Regions from separate parts of the Homo sapiens genome. Here region 2 is linked to region 1. The links come from fine-mapping of genetic effects on gene expression. Tissue or cell type: left ventricle. Region 1 holds a variant in brackets; the other region holds the start of a gene. All regions are shown on one strand. Distances are from middle to middle.

Region 1 (8,110 bases):
GGAAAACTCTGGTTAGTAAAAGTAGAAAGAATAACAGAATTTGGAAATCAACATTTTGCAATCTCCAATGATTGATTTAGATAAGGATCATAACTGGATGCTATGTCCTCTAGGTGAAAGTTACACTTGCAAAGTGTGGCTGACACCATCTGAACCAAGTGAACAAATTTAACATCATCAATAGTGGGACAATCTGACATCATGTGCCTAGTAAGATGATGCAGTGCGTTATACATGGATTATTTATGAAATGTCCTGCTAGAAGTGTTTATCCTGAATCTAATCGGGCTCCAGCTTAATTTAAAGTCTGTGAAAGTTTTAAAATATATTACCCATTTCCCTCCAGGAAGATGACCTCAATTTATACTCTCAGCAGCGTAGTAGACTGCCAGTTTCCCTGAACAAGTTAATTGAGACCACAAGGACACAAAAATACACAGGCAGTATGTGAGATATTCATCAAGACAACAACTGATCTGGATTCTTCTCAAGACAATGTCATGGGTAAAAAAAGCAAGAGAATTCTTCTACATTACAGGAGACGTGCTTGAATCCTGGACTTTTAAAAAAGCTATAAAAGACATTTTGGGACCATTGAGGAATTTTTAGTGTGGAATGGTTATAAATGATATTTAGGAATTATGAATGTCTTCGATGGTCATAATATTCTCCTATTATGGCTATATGGGAGAATGTCCTCATGTTTTAAAGATGAATGCTGAAGAATTTAAAAAAGAAAATAATGTCTGCAACTTACTTTCAAATGATTTAGAAAAATCATGTAAATAGGGCAACAAGTGAAAATACCCCAAATTCTTCTGACTCTGAAGGTCCACAAAACATACTTGAAAAACCACTGGGCTAGGCAATGAACAATCTGGATTCCCCAAATGAGTACTTATGATGGTGACTGGGTGGAGGTCCTGGAAACCTGAAATCTATCCATTTGTGTATGTCTCTCCCAGTGCCTCAACACCTGCAGTTCCTTAAGGCAGCTTCATGAATGAACTTGTTCCCACTGGTTCTTTTTCTGACATGTGAAAGCTTTTATAATCTCAGATCCTGTCTCTTTATCTCATAATAAAGAAAGCTCCCCTCAGCATCTATGTCAACACAGACAAAGGGTTCAATCTGCCAAAATGCCTCAGCAAAGTCTGGCTCTTGACTACAACTGGGGTGTGGGATGAGGTGGCTTTTTCCTCTGATTTCACAACCTCTAAAGGAAATGGATTTTTATTGTTTCTTTTTCTTCTGTAAGCTAAAGGAACTAGGGCTCTAGAGTGGCTTCTACCACTAAGTTCCATCCTTCAACACCAACTGACTCAAGAAAAAACAGTGCAATAAGAGACCACAAACAACTTCCTGAAACACGAAAATAAAATGCATATATTTTCACCTGAATATTTAGAACAATAGGACTTAGCATTAGAAGACTGGGTTCAAATCCTGATTCTGCTTTTAACAAGTAGTGGACGGGTTATGGACAACTAATATCCTAAGCCTCAGTTATTTCACCTGAAAATTGGGGTGCTAATGATAATAAATGCTATGGAAATAAGATGAATAATAGCCATGGAAATAAGATGAGTTAATGGCTATGAACGTGCTTTGTAATATGAAAATGCTATAAAATGATCCTAGCTAGTCTAGTTAACTGAATTAATAAATGAATAATCTGAAGGCCAACAAGGACATGACTTGATTGACATTACAAAGCAAATTTATTTATCTGTTCAATACATTCTCTCCTGGGTTAGGACTTACACTAAAATATGGAGGTTAACTAGACTGTCCTCTTACTACATGTAGATGTATTTGTAGAGATCCATATAGATACATAAGAAATACAGCTGTCTCGCCAAATTTACTGAGTCATCCCAGCACCATACTAAGAGTTTGGGTATATTACTTCACTGAAGCTTATGACTGTCCTATGAGAAAAGTCCTATTATTATCCCCATCATATGAATAAGAACAGTGAGGATACAAAAGGAGAGATTATAAATGCCTGAAAAATATCAGTGAGAATGTAGGAGAAGAAATGGACTTTAGATTGAGCAGGTTGAATACACAGAACATAGAAAACCAATGGGATATAAGGATTAAGGAAAAAAGAGATGACAAGAAACCATGTTGCTATAATTGAGCAAATATTAATGCTATACAGAGGGAAGAACAGGTTGGTGGGGAAAATTTCCATTCATTTAACCAATATTAACTGAGCACTTAATATGTGTCTGACAATATTATAAGCTCTAGGGATATAGCAATAAAAAATATTGGTAAGAGTTCCTATTTTCCTGAACTTATATTCTGGGAACAGGGGAATATGTTCAAGAATTGTTATGTTCTTGATTTTTTGAGGCGCTCATTGAACATTTGGGTGAAGATGTCCAGGAAATACCAGGAAATAGTTGGAGAAATGGGTTTAATTCTCAAAAGAGTTGTTTAAATGAGAGATGAACTTGGGAAATCTTCAGTGTATAAATGGTGATTGAATTTATGAACATGAATGAGGTCACTCAGGCACAGAATATAGTTCCAGAAGAACAGCAGGCTAAAGGTGAAGCCCTTGCAATGCCAATATTTAAGAAGAAGAGTCCAAGAAAGAGATGAAGCAGGAACAGTTAGACAGGTAAAAGGAATGGCAGAAGAGAATGATATGATAAAAACCAAGGAAAGAGAAAGTTATAAGAAGGAATGGTTAGTAGTTTCAAATGCTGTTAAGAGATCAATATGTATAATGAACAACTGAATGTGGCACCCAGAGGGTCCCTATGATTATGGCAAAGGCAGCTTCAGGAGAGAAGTTGGGGCAGGAGGCCAATGTAGTATGTGGAGGGGTGTCTAGAAGAAAAGTCTGTAAAAGCCTCAATTAAAGTGAACTTTTCTGTTGAGAACTTAACCTGCCAGCATGGGCAACATAGCGATACATCATCTTTACAAAAAATAAAAAATTAGCCAGGCATGGTGACACGCACCTGTGTTCCAGCTACTCTGGAGGCCAAGGCAGTAGGATTGTTTGAGCTCCGGAGTTTAATGCTAAAGTGAGCTGTGATCGGGCTACTGCACTCCAGCCTAGGTGACAGAGAAAGACCCTATCTCAAACAAACAAACAAACAAAAACAACAACAACAACAAAAAACTTTATCTGGAGAGAAATATTAATATAAGCAACAGGAGACCAAGAGTGAGGTATTGGCTTTTAAAATAGAGGAACAATGTCAGCGTGTTTGACTGCTTGTGAGAAAGGGTCAGTAACAGAGAAGCTGGAAGAGAAAAGAGAAGGAAAAATGGGTGAGGCCACTGTAGAGACAAAGAGGAGGGATCCAGAACACCCTCCTCCTGACCCTGGACGCAGGGAAGGTGGGATGTAGAAGAGAAAAAATGAGTGAAAGGGAAAGACTCCAAGTTGAGGAAGTTGTTGCTGATGGCTTCTGCAAGGAGGAGGTAATTTTACCTATATTTTCTCACTTTCTTTTATGACAGTTTTTTGAGACAGGAACTCAAAAAATAGTTTTTTGAGAAACTATTAGTGTCCTCACTTCATTAATGAGGAAACTGAGGTTCAAAGAGGTTAAATGACCTGCCCTTGGAAATTTGCAGGGTCAGAATTCAAACCCAGACATTTCACTCAAGTCCCCTAGTCTTTCTTAATGATCACTAGAGAGAGAAATTTAAGGAAAAGAAACATCAATGCCTTCAAACCCAAGAAACCTTCAGAATGATGGTAACCACTGAGAGAAAAGAATAAAATGGACAGGAAAACAGGATAGAGCAAAGGCTGTAGGTACAATAATCGTAATAAAAATGGGTATTTATCTATAGCGTTATCTCTTTTTTCTCCCTATAACAAATAGTTAAACAATATAAACTATGTAAAGGGGCATGAGAAAATAGAAACTGCAAGGCTCGCTTCTAAGGAAATGATTGTTTTGTAAATATATCGTAAGAATTGATCATTAAAACAACATTTTGTAATTATATTAGTTTATGGCAGACAAGAATAATTTATTCAACAAAT[A/ATT]TTTATTGAGTATCTACTATGTGCCAGATAGTGCTCTAAACCCTGGACATATAATAGTGAATAAATCAGACAAGAGCTCTACTTTTTTGGAGTCTACGTTCTAATGAGAAGACAGGCAGGAAAATAGCAGATTAATCAGCAAATAGCTCAAGTAAAACCAGATGAGGAGTGCTACTTTAGAATGGGTAGTGGAGTGAAATTCTGAAGACATGACATTTGAGTTGAGACCTCATGAACAAGAATCAGTTATATGGAAATCTGAAGCAACACACTTAGGCTGAGGGAACAGTGAATGTCAAGGTTCTGGAGTAGGAGCCACCTTGGCATGTTCAATGAACAGCAAAAAAAAAAGCGTGATGAGCACAGGGAGGACAGTGGCAGGAGATGAGGCTAGAGACATGGGCAAAAACCAGACATGTAGAGCAGCAGTTCTCAGTCCTCGCTGCTCACCAGAATCCCCAGAGGAGCTTTAAAAATATGGATGACTGGGTCCCCACTCCCAGAGAAACTGATTTAATTGGTCTGAGGTGGGGCTCAGGCATAGATCTTTTGAAAAATGCCCTGGGGATTCTGATGGATATCCAAGGTTGAGACTAATATTGAGACTTCTAGCACTTTGGGAGGTCATGGCAGGCACATCACTTGAGGCCAGGAGTTCGAGACCAGTCTGGCCAACATGGTGGAACCCTATCTCTACTAAAAATATAAAAATTAGCCAGGCATGATGGGGCGCACCTGCAATCCCAGCTATTCAGGAGGCTGAGGAATGAAAATTGCTTGAACCGGGGAGGTGGAGGTTGCAGTGAGCTGAGATTCTGCCACTGCACTCCAGCCTGGGCAACAGAGCGAGACTCTGTCTCAAAAAAAAAAAAAAAAAAAAAAAAAAAAGAAATACCTGAAAAAAAAGAAAGAAAAATAAATACCTGAGACTGGGTAACTGGGTACTTTATACAGAAAAGAGGTATATATACACACAAATATACACATATATATATTTCAGAAAATTTTTTAAAAAGAAGAGACTTCCAGATATTCTGTAGTAAAGAGAATATAGGTGAAAGACTGTGTGTGGAAGCAGAGAATTAATGTAAGTTGAACCTGGTAAACAGAAGAATCATTTCAAATAACATTCCCCCACAGAGAAATTTGAGCAATCTTAATTGCCAGACCTCCTGAGAACATAAAAGCTTTACCTGCCAAGAAAACTTGGCTCAAGAAACACCAACTAATAAAATGTAAGACTTTCTATCTTCCAAGCTAACTAACATGTATTGAATTGGTAATATGTACCAGATATTGTATACTAAGCAATTCACTAGATGGTCTAGTATCTTCATAACAATTTCATCTTATCTGTGAGTAAGACCCAATTTAGAGATGACAGTACTCATCTTGGAGAGATTTAGTGTCTTATGTAATGCCACACAACTATTAAGTAGCAGAGGTGCGTCTCTCTGATTCGAAGTCTATGATCATTGCTGCTGTAAGACCTAGTTTGCTGAGGTTACAAAATGGCCAGTCTAATATTTAAACTACTGCTCTCTAGGAAAGTGCTCTTGGGTTCTGTTATGAAAAACTACCACCAGCCGGCCATGGAGGCACATGTCCTTAGTCCCAGACACTCAGGAGGCCGGTGTGAGAGGATCACCTGAGCTCTGGAGGTTGAGGCTGCAGTGAACCACAATGGCACCATTACACTCCAGCCTGGGCAATAGTGTGAAAAACTGTCTCAGAGAAAAAATGATTTCCCAGAGATTGGCAAAGAAAAAAAGGAGGAAAGAAACAAAGTTGAAAGAAAGAAAGAAAGAAAGAGAAAGAAAGAAACTTCCAGAAATAAAATCAATCTAGAACACTGTGGTAAAACAACTGTGGTAGTTATTACCCAGCTATCCACCCCTGTATTAGTCCATTCTCTTATTGTTATAAAGAAATACCTGAAAAAAAAGAAAGAAAAATAAATATCTGAGACTGGGTAACTGGGTAATTTATACAGAAAAGAGGTTTAATTGGCTCATGGTTCTGCAGGCTGTACAGGAAGCATAGCAGCTTCTGCTGCCTGGGGGACCTCAGGAAACTTACAATCATGACAGAAGGCAAAGGGGCAGCCAGCACTTCACATAGCCGGAGCAGGAGGAAGAGAGATGGGAGAAGGTGCTACATACTTTACACACTTTTAAATAACCAGATCTCATGATAACTCACTGGCTATCAGCACCCATGATCCAATCTGCCCCCATGATCCAATCACCTCCCACCAGGCCCCATTTCCAACACTGAGAATTATAATTCAACATGAGATTTGGTGGGGACACAGATCCAAAGCATATCAACCCCCCAGATAGTACTACAATTTCCACTTGGGCCTTGTGACAAGCTCTGGCCAATGAATTATGAGCTGGAATGATGTATACCATGTCTAGGCTGGAGCACATAATTGCTTCCTTTCCCACACTTATGATGGGCGATCCTTCAGATAATGGTTGTTCTATCAGCCAGGTCACAGAAGATCTCTCAGCCAACCCATGCTGAACAAGTAGTGAGAGCAAAAGATTGTGATGTTATAGACCACGGAGATTTGGGGGATTCTTTATTATGTAGCATAGCGTAGTTCATCCTGACTGATACAAACTGCATCCTTCCTCTCTGAGTTTGTCTAGAGATGACAAATTACCAGCTCTACTTATGCATCACACATGCCCAAAAGTGTGTGTGTGTGTTGTGTATGTGCTTTATTTTGTTGCTAATAAATCTATTAAAAGTGGAAAACTCTAAGTCCATCAGCAGAAAACATTCCTGTAGATATTTCTTCAGTACAAAGGATGTCAGTTGTTCAATCTGACAAGGTAATTAATGAATGAGAAACTCCAGAATAGCCACATCCAGACCACAAATACCTCCCTTGGAGAAAGATGCATATGTGGGCCAAGCAAGGGCAAAAGGAAGGTCCCTAAAGAAGAGCCCACACATGTTGATGTTGCTCTGGGAGAAATATATTAATTTATTTAACAAATAAAAAAGCTACTATGTTCCAGGCATTGTCCAAAGTGCAAAAAATAGAATAGTGAACAGAACAGACAAAAATCTCCCTTTTTATAGAGTTTATATTCCAATGGCGTGAGGGAAGATAATGACATGGCTCTAAAAACATTTAATTGTTCCAGTATAGACTTTCCCCATTTCTCATGATCTGTTCATCCAGCTGAATAAATAAGAAATGTGACAAGCCCATCACCCCCCACTTACTGACAGGGTAAAGTCTGAAGCAATATATGGGGTAATCCAACCTACACCATCTGGGGCCCTGAAATGCAGATCATTAATTTGGATTAAACCCTTAAATACTGGTTTCTGATTTCCATTCATAGGAAACAACAGCTCTTTCTTCTTCTGGCTGCACCTGGGGTTCTGCCCACTGGCCTAGAGGAAGAAATGGAATTCATGTTTTGATCACCACATCTGGCATCTGAATCCCTTCATCTTCTTGAAAACCTCTGAAGATCTGAGTACTGTTTAAGAGCAGACTCCCTAAGGCAATTATCCTCTCAGGCCAGAAGTCTCAGGAGGTAGAGGTTGGAGTCTATGGTAGCACCATCTTTGACTCACTGGTCTGTCTGCATAGAAAATACTGCAACTCATGTTTAGCTATTGTCTAATGTATGTGCCATCAGCTCCTAAGGGGACAAAGACAGAGTGACAGCCCCTTCCTGTGACGGTTACTATGGGACTGAACGAAGGAGGACGAATGCAGAAATGAAGACAAAGACAAAAGATCTGTTTTAAAAGAAGGGGTGGGGGGCTCCTTGTTTCTAGTGAGCAAGGGCCCTGAGCTTCTACAGCCCTTTGTATTTATTACGTAGAATCAACAGGGAGGAAAGGTAATGGTTGGTCAGCTGCTTGATTTATCACAGGTTCACCTAATTGCTTTTTTTATACTACAGGCTTCAGATATTCCTATAGATAACCACAAGGAACACTGCGCTTGGGGCGTGACTGCCTCAGCATTCCTTCTGGCAGCAGATGCAGTTTGCCAGTTTGCCAACTCCCGCTTTCATGAGAACAGTTTGCTATTTGCTCATATAGCCTCCA
Region 2 (8,110 bases), 180 kb after region 1:
CCACATCAGCGGCGTAACGGAAGCCGACCAATGGCGGGCTTGGACCCGCCGCGCCAGCGTGGCCACGTCCCGCTCAGGCTCCGCCGCCTGCTCTTGGCTCCGGGTAGCCGGCCAGGGCGGACACTTAACACTCGCGTCGGCCGCGGCCGGCCCTCCGCGCAGGCAGCCCTGGAGGCGGCCCCGCGAAGCTCAGGAGCGCCCCTGCGACGGGGAGGGCGGACTGCGCAGTGCCGCGCCCGGGCAGGGACCTGGAGCCGCCGCCGCCCACCGGCCCTGCCGCCATCCCCCCACCGCCGCACGGGAAGCGGAAGTGGGTGCGGGACCGCGGCGCGCCCAGCCCGGCCAGCTCCCGCGCCCAGCCCGGCCCTTGAATTCATCTTTTTATGGCTGCATAGTATTCCATGGTGTGTAACACATATATATTTTTAATTGTATTTAATTCTTTGATTTCTGTATCTTGTAAGTTTTTATTAACCGATTTTTCTATTTGCAAAAATACAATATCCATATTTTTTCAGTGAGACATTTTACGTTTGGAAACTATCTTTATCTTTTTTCTTTTTTTTTTTTTTTGAGATGGAGTCTTGCTCTGTCGCCCAGGCTGGAGTGTAGGGGCACGATCTCGGCTCACTACAACCTCCACTTCCTGGGTTCAAGCAATTCTTCCACTTCAGCCCCCCAAGTAGCTGGGGTTACAGGTGCACACCACCACACCCGGCTAATTTTTGTATTTTTAATAGAGATGTGGTTTCACTGTGTTGGCCAGGCTGGTCTCGAACTCCTGACCTCAGGTGATCTCCCCACCTTGGCCTCCCAAAGTGCTGAGATTACAGGCCTGAGCCACTGTGCCCGGCCGGATTTGGAAATTCTCTTTATCTGAAGGAGAAAAATGTCAACGAAAAATGTAATATGAAATGCATAAAAATAATTTGGACACCTTTATTTACAGGGTATAGCTATTGAAGGTCCAACATTATTTTTACATGTTCTATTTCCCTCAAAATATGCACTTAGGGTAGTGAGTAGGGGAAAGGTAGAATAGAGGATTGTAAGCCCAAAAGTTATCATCCATCAGAACTCACTAAAACTGCTGATGAGAAAGCAGGAATTCAGGAGCAGGATGCAAGTTACCACAGCAGAGAAAAGGTTCTGATGACAGCAGCATCTTCCAAAATCTGGAGAAACAAAATATAGCAGGGTAGAATTTCATGTCTTTCTAAGAAATGTTAGATGACCTCAATGACTTAAATCCAAAATAAAATAGAAGGAGTAAGATGAATTATTCTTCCACCTGTCAAGGATACCGCACAAGAAAGTCCTTTTCCCAGGAAAAGCCACAGGACTAGCTCCTGTTTGTGATGGAAAGGCACCAAGTGGTTTGTAACAGGGCAGATATTTTAGCATGTGATTCATTGAAAAATTGCATTCTGTGTCCAAATATATTTTGTGGCTGTTTGGGGTAATTGATTAGCATTTTGGGTTACTGAGTAATTTTTACTTCTCAACTCTTTGACCCTCTCCTCATTTTTACTGTTTTTCCTCCTAACGTTATCCCCCTACTTTGTTCATTCATTTGCTCCTTTATTGAGTATGACATATGTACCCGATCTTGTGCTTCATTATGGGAATAGAGGAATGAATAAGTGTTCTTGCCTGTATTCCACTCAGTGGCTTGTGACTGGAATGTACAAGCAAATCAACATTTGGAGGTCACTATAATAACTGCTGATTGAGCTCATGATTATTTACCAAAGCTATCCACTTTTCTTCAGGGTCACTATTCTATTATTCCTACAGAATCTTGCCACTTCCTCACTTCTCCCTGTCTTTTCAGTCATGCTCAGTTCTGCATCTAATAAAGTTTATGCTACACGTGTGGGGAAAGAATGAACTAAGATAGGCAGGAGCAATACACAAGCGAAGGAGTTGAGAATTTATTCTGAGAGTTATTTGGAGACTATAAAGAATTGAATCAGTGTAATAAATAAAATTTACATTATAGAAAGATTATTTTAAAAGCAGATGGGATGATTAATTCATAGGGGTAAATAAATGTATAAGAAATACTTTAAAATAATATTTATCATCCTGTTTACTTGAGGGGTATGTAACAGCTGTAACTGTTAGAGAACTATCTTAAATAGTATTTTCATTAGTATCTTATGGAAAAGATGAAGTCAGAGTTAAACTGAGCATGTGTAATCCCAGACAACAAAAAACAAAAACCCTAAGAGGACAGAAGGAACAGTACCCATCGGGGAAAGGCCCATGCTGCTTGGGCTACGCAAAAGCAGAGACAGAAGGCGCAACCTGCTTTGGTGGACATCTTTAGTTTTTCAAATGATGCTTTGAAACTAAAATGGATCCCGGGCACTTCTCTAAGAAGTAATCCCAAGTGAGTTTGGCAACAGTCAGTAATAACCATAGAGGAGACTTTATTATTACAATTATCATCAGTCACATCCATCATTCTTGGAAAATGTACCCAAATCAAGAGAAAACCCTCCCTATAGAACGAAACAGGGAGAAATAAGTGTGGAATGGGCAATTAGTGTCCCAATTTCCTTCTTTTCCATCTTGTCCAAAACACTTTAAGTTGGTCTTCTTTTTTCTCTTATTTCTTTTGTTCCTAATAAGAATATTTAGTTCCATCAAACCTCATGTGTAGGATTATCCTAGGAGGCCATTTCATCTTCCTAAATCCTTCCAGGAAACTCTGAGTGCCCATTTGTAAGAATGGTTAGAGCTAAAGATGAACTATAAAGAAAAAAGAATAGTAAGCTCTGACACCAGCACAATCAAGATCTGATGAACGTGAACAAATAGTGCAGTAGGAAATTCTTGAGAAGGAGAATTAAAGTATAATTGCCAGAACTTGTGACCTTCTATATATCTAATACCATCTCACCAATTCAAGACCTTCATCTTTCCCATTCCTTTTCTAATTAGATACATGGCAGACAGCATGTTGAAAGTTAAATAATATTATCTTTTAAGTAACACACATGAATTATGAAGAACTGTAATTCATTAAGATGAGCCTTGCTAGATAGAAGGCAGCCAAGCTTCTCAAACTGTAGAAACCCTTTTTCAAAAAGGAGGCTTTGAAAAATATCAGAACTTCTGCTGGTTTTCTAGAAATGTGCTGGTCTTTAGTCATAAGCAAAACAGTTACAAAATATTAAGTTGACTTGTAGTAATTGCACTGAGGAATGGCACAGAGACACAATGCCAACAGGAGTAGCACTGCATTTTCAAAAGCCTCAATCCTATTTAGGAGTTATAAGTCCCAAATACAGCAAAAACCTCCCTTCGTGATTCTTTATTTCCACGAAATGTCTATGAAGTGCAAGTGCAAAGGTTACTACTAATTTCAGATGTGCTGTGAAAGACTTCTTAGCCATGTATTCCTTTCTTAGTCCTTACTCTTTAGGGTCCATCAAAGACTTGTTCTTTGTTTTTTATCATAATGTCTTCTTATTTATTTGCTTTATTAAAATTTATAGCAGAAAGATCAAGGGCTCAGACTTAGCTGGTCCTGAATTTAAATTACACTTGAGATTCTACTACATGACCTTACATAAGTCAGTTAGTCCTTATAAGTCTTCATTTTCCATCTACCAATGGAGACAATAATATCTATAAAATAGGTTACATGTGTGAATTAAATTGAGATGACCTAAAGCATTTACTGTAGTACCTGGCACTTGATAACAATAAGTTTCTAATTTATCCCTTCTTTCTATTTCCACAACTTCATATCCTTGTGTGACTTCTAATCTCCAGTCTTTATAATACATTTTCTGTTTACTTTATTAATGTTTTCCTCCTTTCTTGGATTTCAGTTTTGCCTCCAATATTGCTGCTACTCTAAGTTCCACAAAACTTTCAATTTTTTTATATTTCTCATGTCCTGTTTTCTTTTTACCTTACTACATAATATTTATATCTGTTTGTTGTTACACATATTCTTAGTATACCCACCATCTCCCAAATGGCAGAGCAAAATAAAAGCAAAACCTTACCAATATGCCACGAGTTTTGAGGCAGCATCATTATGGGTCTATCTCTTCCTGAGTCCTGATGTAACTCCTGGGTCCTCTTATATATAATCTCAGAACTGCTCATGAGGTGAAAACAGATCTGCTATTTGGAAATGACAATACTGTAAAATTGAGTTCATAGTTTTCCAAAGGGGAAGTCATTATAAAAGCTGAGGTTGTTTTTTCTTTGCTACTTCCTTATCACGTTAGGATATGGAAAACAAAGGAAGTTAAATAATATGCCTGGAAAGTCTCACAGAATAAAGGGAACTGTAAATTGCCACTCTAAATTTTCAAAAAGACTCATGTTTCACATTTAAAAATTTTTGTTCCATAAATGTGATCTTGTCAGCACAGTTTTATAGATATTTATCTAAAAGATAAAATATATCATCAGGTTTGTTTACTTTAGCATACATATTTCAACCAGTTATGCTAAAAGGATCAGAAGAGGTTACATTGCTGAAAACTGGCTAGTCTACGAAAGCTTTGCTGATGAAACATGAGCACAGATAAACATATTTGAAAAAATTTCATGTCTATAAAAATGTTTAACAAAATGGAGTCCTTTAAAATTAGTTTTTTATTGTTAATGATTATGTAAAAGAAAATAAAGCTTAGTCATCAAATGAGTTTGGAAAACATTCATTTAAATGATTTCAACCATTAGGTAGAAAACCATGAGTGGCTTCTGAGCTCATAGTGATTGTTCTGTGTTCGGATAGGCCTGTATGTCCTGCCCTGCTTCTTTGGGAAAATTGCTTTTTCCCTTCCTTGATATGTTAAGAATGGTAGATCACATCTTTTCACACGCCCACGTCTCCCCGATTACAGTGACAAGTTCAAGGAAAAGCCAATGACCCAAGTGAGCCCATCAGAGTGTTTGCCAGGATTTTTCGTCCTATACTTCCATGTCGAGTAGGCCTATTAGTAAAAAAGAAGCTAATATATACAGAAATTAAAATGAGATATAAAATATCTAAATACTTTAGATAAATAAGTCCTTATAAATCTCCATTGATAAATTCAAGAACTTTATTTTTTCTTGTCCCTTTTCAACTTAGATACCTGACAAGGCTTTATATAACAGAGGTTAAATAAAATTCTGCTGCAATTAATGCCAAATGTATTTTGAAGTCCAATTAAACATCGGAGCTTGCTAGATATGAGCGAGATGTGCCTCTGAAATGATAAAGTGCCATTCTCAAAATATAGTCTCTTTCTTACTTCTCAGAACTGAGGTAGGTGCCCAAAGTCAGAAGAAATCAGGAGGAAAACAGGGAGAATTTTTTCTTGGAAAGCTTGAGATGAAATGTCTTTGGGGAAATGTAATTCACTAACTAGGATAAGTCACATGATGGAAGAATGGAAGACACAAAAAGAGGATGCTGAAACTTGTTTTAGTATATTATTTCTCAGCCATGCTGAGAAAATTTCCTGAAATTTTTAAAATACAGTATGACCGGAAACGCTTTCATGCTAACAGAATCCATAGCAAACTAACTGCTGATAAAATGATCTCACAGAAGTGGGAACTGAAAATAGAAAACAATGAAAACCTGATTATTGCTATTCTTTGATAGAATAAATGTCTCCACAATATCTCTGCTACTGTTTTGAGTTTCTCCCATTTCTAGACACCCAAGTTCTCTCACTCTCAAATATTTCGTAGCAGGTTCTAATCTAAATGAGTCCCTTTCTTGCCTTTATGATAAAAAAGCATAAGGGATGTGATAACTATCTCTTTGGGGAAATAGCTGGATATTCTGCTTCAAGATCTCACACAGGGCTATAATTACATTGTAAACTGGGGCTGTGGTCTCACCTGGAAGCTTGACTGAGGAAGGATCTGCTCCCATGGCCACTGCTATTCCATGGACTGAATTGTGTCTCCTCAAAATTTATAGATTAAAGCAATAACCCCCCAGTGTGACTATGTTTCAAGACAGGGCCTTTAAGGAGGTAATTAAGGTTACTTGAGATTATAAGGGTGAGGCCCTAATCCAATAGGATTGATGTCCTTACAAGAAGGGACACCAGAGCTTGTTCTCTCTCTTTCCACAAATGTGCAGAAGAAAGGCCACGTGAGGACACAGACAAAAAGTGGATGTCTAAAAGCCAGCAAGAGAGCCCTCACTAGAAACCAAATTTCCTGGTACCTTGATAATGAACTTCTAGCCTCCAGAAATGTGAAAAATAAATTTCTGTCATTTTTAAGTGACTCAGTCTACAGTACTTTGCTATGTTGATCCAAGCAGACAAATGCAGATGTTGGTACTGAGAAGGGAGATGCTTCTGTAACAGATAACCTAAAAATGTGGAAGTGCCTTTGGAACTGGGTAGTGAATAGAGGCTAGAAAAGTTTTCAGGTGCATGCCTGAGAAAGCCTAAATTGCCTTGAAGGGACTGTTAATAAAAACATGAATGCTAAAAGCAATTCTGATGAAGTCTTCCATGGAAGTGAGGAACATGTTATTGGAAACTGCAGAAAAGATGATTTTTGTTTTAAAGTGGCAAAGAACTTGTCTGAATTGTGTCTTAGTGTTTTGTAAAGTGTAGGACTTGTGAATTACAACTTTGGATTTTTAAAAGGGAAGATATATAAGCAAAGTGTTAAAAGCACAGCCTAGTTTTTCCTAATTGCTCATGGTAAAAGGCTAGAGGGGAAAGATAAATTGACAGCATTGTTAAGCAAAAAACAAAAACAAAAGCAACCCAGAAACTGAAGATTTGGAAAAATCTCGGCCTATTTATATAGCAAAAAAATGATAAAATGTGTTCTGGAGAGAACATCAATGGTGTGGCGCCTCAATCACTCCATAGGGAAATTAACCATGACTTTTTTCATCCACCTTAGCGGGAGCCTTGAATAGAGATGGGATTATATCAGCAGAGACCCTGCCAGTTTGGACCAAAGAGAATAGAAATGGGTTGAAATAAATCATGGAAAGCTTTCTGACTTCTGAGATTCTGTAGGATGAAATAATAGAGATATTCAGCTGTGAACATGCTTTATCCTTCAAGGAAAGGGATAAATGACCTTGAAGGTGATTCAGAGGTCATCAGTGCTGTAACTCCCACTATAGGCCCAGAGGAAAGGCTGTTTTGTCCTCAGTTTCAGAGGATGGGACCATCTCCTCAGTTTCAGTAGACCAGGCTGCCTCCATCCGTGCCTGAGGAGTGGAGCAGCCACAAAAAGTTTTAACAGTCTGCTACTTACAGCTGTGGTGGTGACAATGCCACCCCAGTGGGCCTGGAGGGCAGAGGATTCAGCCAAAGATAATTATTGTTGAATCTTAAGATCTAATGGAATTTGCCACTTCTCCTTTTTGGAATGAGAATGTCTGTCTTATGCCTGTCCCACTACTGTTTTTTGGATGCACATAACTTGTCTGGCTTCACAGGTTCACAACTGGAAAGGAATTTTGCCTCAGGATGAATCATAACTTGAGTCTCACCCATACCTGATTTAAATGAGACTTTGCACTTTAGACTTTAGAATTGATGCTGGAAAGGGTTAAGACTTTATGTGTTGTTGGAATGGGATTAATATATTTATCATGTGAGAATAACATGAATTTGGGAGTGGAGGGTAGAATGTTACGGAATGAATTTTGTCCCCCACAAAATCCACAGGTTGAAGCCCTAATGTGACTATATTTGAAGATAGGGCCTTTAGGGAAGTAATTAACATTACATAAAGTTATAAGAGTGAAGTCCTAATCCAGGATTACTATCCTTATAAGAACAAAACAAGACACAGAGAACTCTCTTCACACATGCAAAGAGGAAAGGCCATGTGAGGACACAGAGAGAAGGTGGCTGTTTGCAAGCCAGGAAGAGAGCCCTCACCAGAAACCAAATTTGCTGGCACCTTGAACATGGACTTCTAGCCTCCATAACTGTGAGAGCATAAATTTCTGTAGCTGAAGCCACCCAGTCTGTGGTATTTTGTTATGACAGCCAGAGCAGACTAATACAGTCCCTAATATGGTTGCTGGCAGAATGTTGTACTGAGGGGCTCAGTTTCTTGCCAAATTGGACTGAGGCTGCCCTGAGTTTCTTAC

Evidence for each region. PIP is the estimated chance that this variant, and not a neighbour inherited with it, causes the effect.
Region 2: it holds the start of CD163L1, and the variant in region 1 is fine-mapped to the expression of CD163L1 in left ventricle (GTEx, PIP 0.93).

What each region holds. Positions count from the first base shown.
Region 1 is chr12:7,257,390-7,265,499 of GRCh38, forward strand. No RefSeq gene overlaps it. Among named protein-coding and RNA genes, the nearest start is that of ACSM4, 43 kb to the right of the region's middle. RefSeq lists a silencer at 1,721-1,921. The variant A/ATT (reference allele first, on the strand shown) is at 4,025.
Region 2 is chr12:7,440,072-7,448,181 of GRCh38, forward strand. CD163L1 (CD163 molecule like 1) reads right to left here and starts at 4,082. Exons shown (of 20, transcript NM_174941.6): 1 at 4,026-4,082; 2 at 1,083-1,175. The coding sequence starts at 4,056. It also overlaps the pseudogene LOC100419928.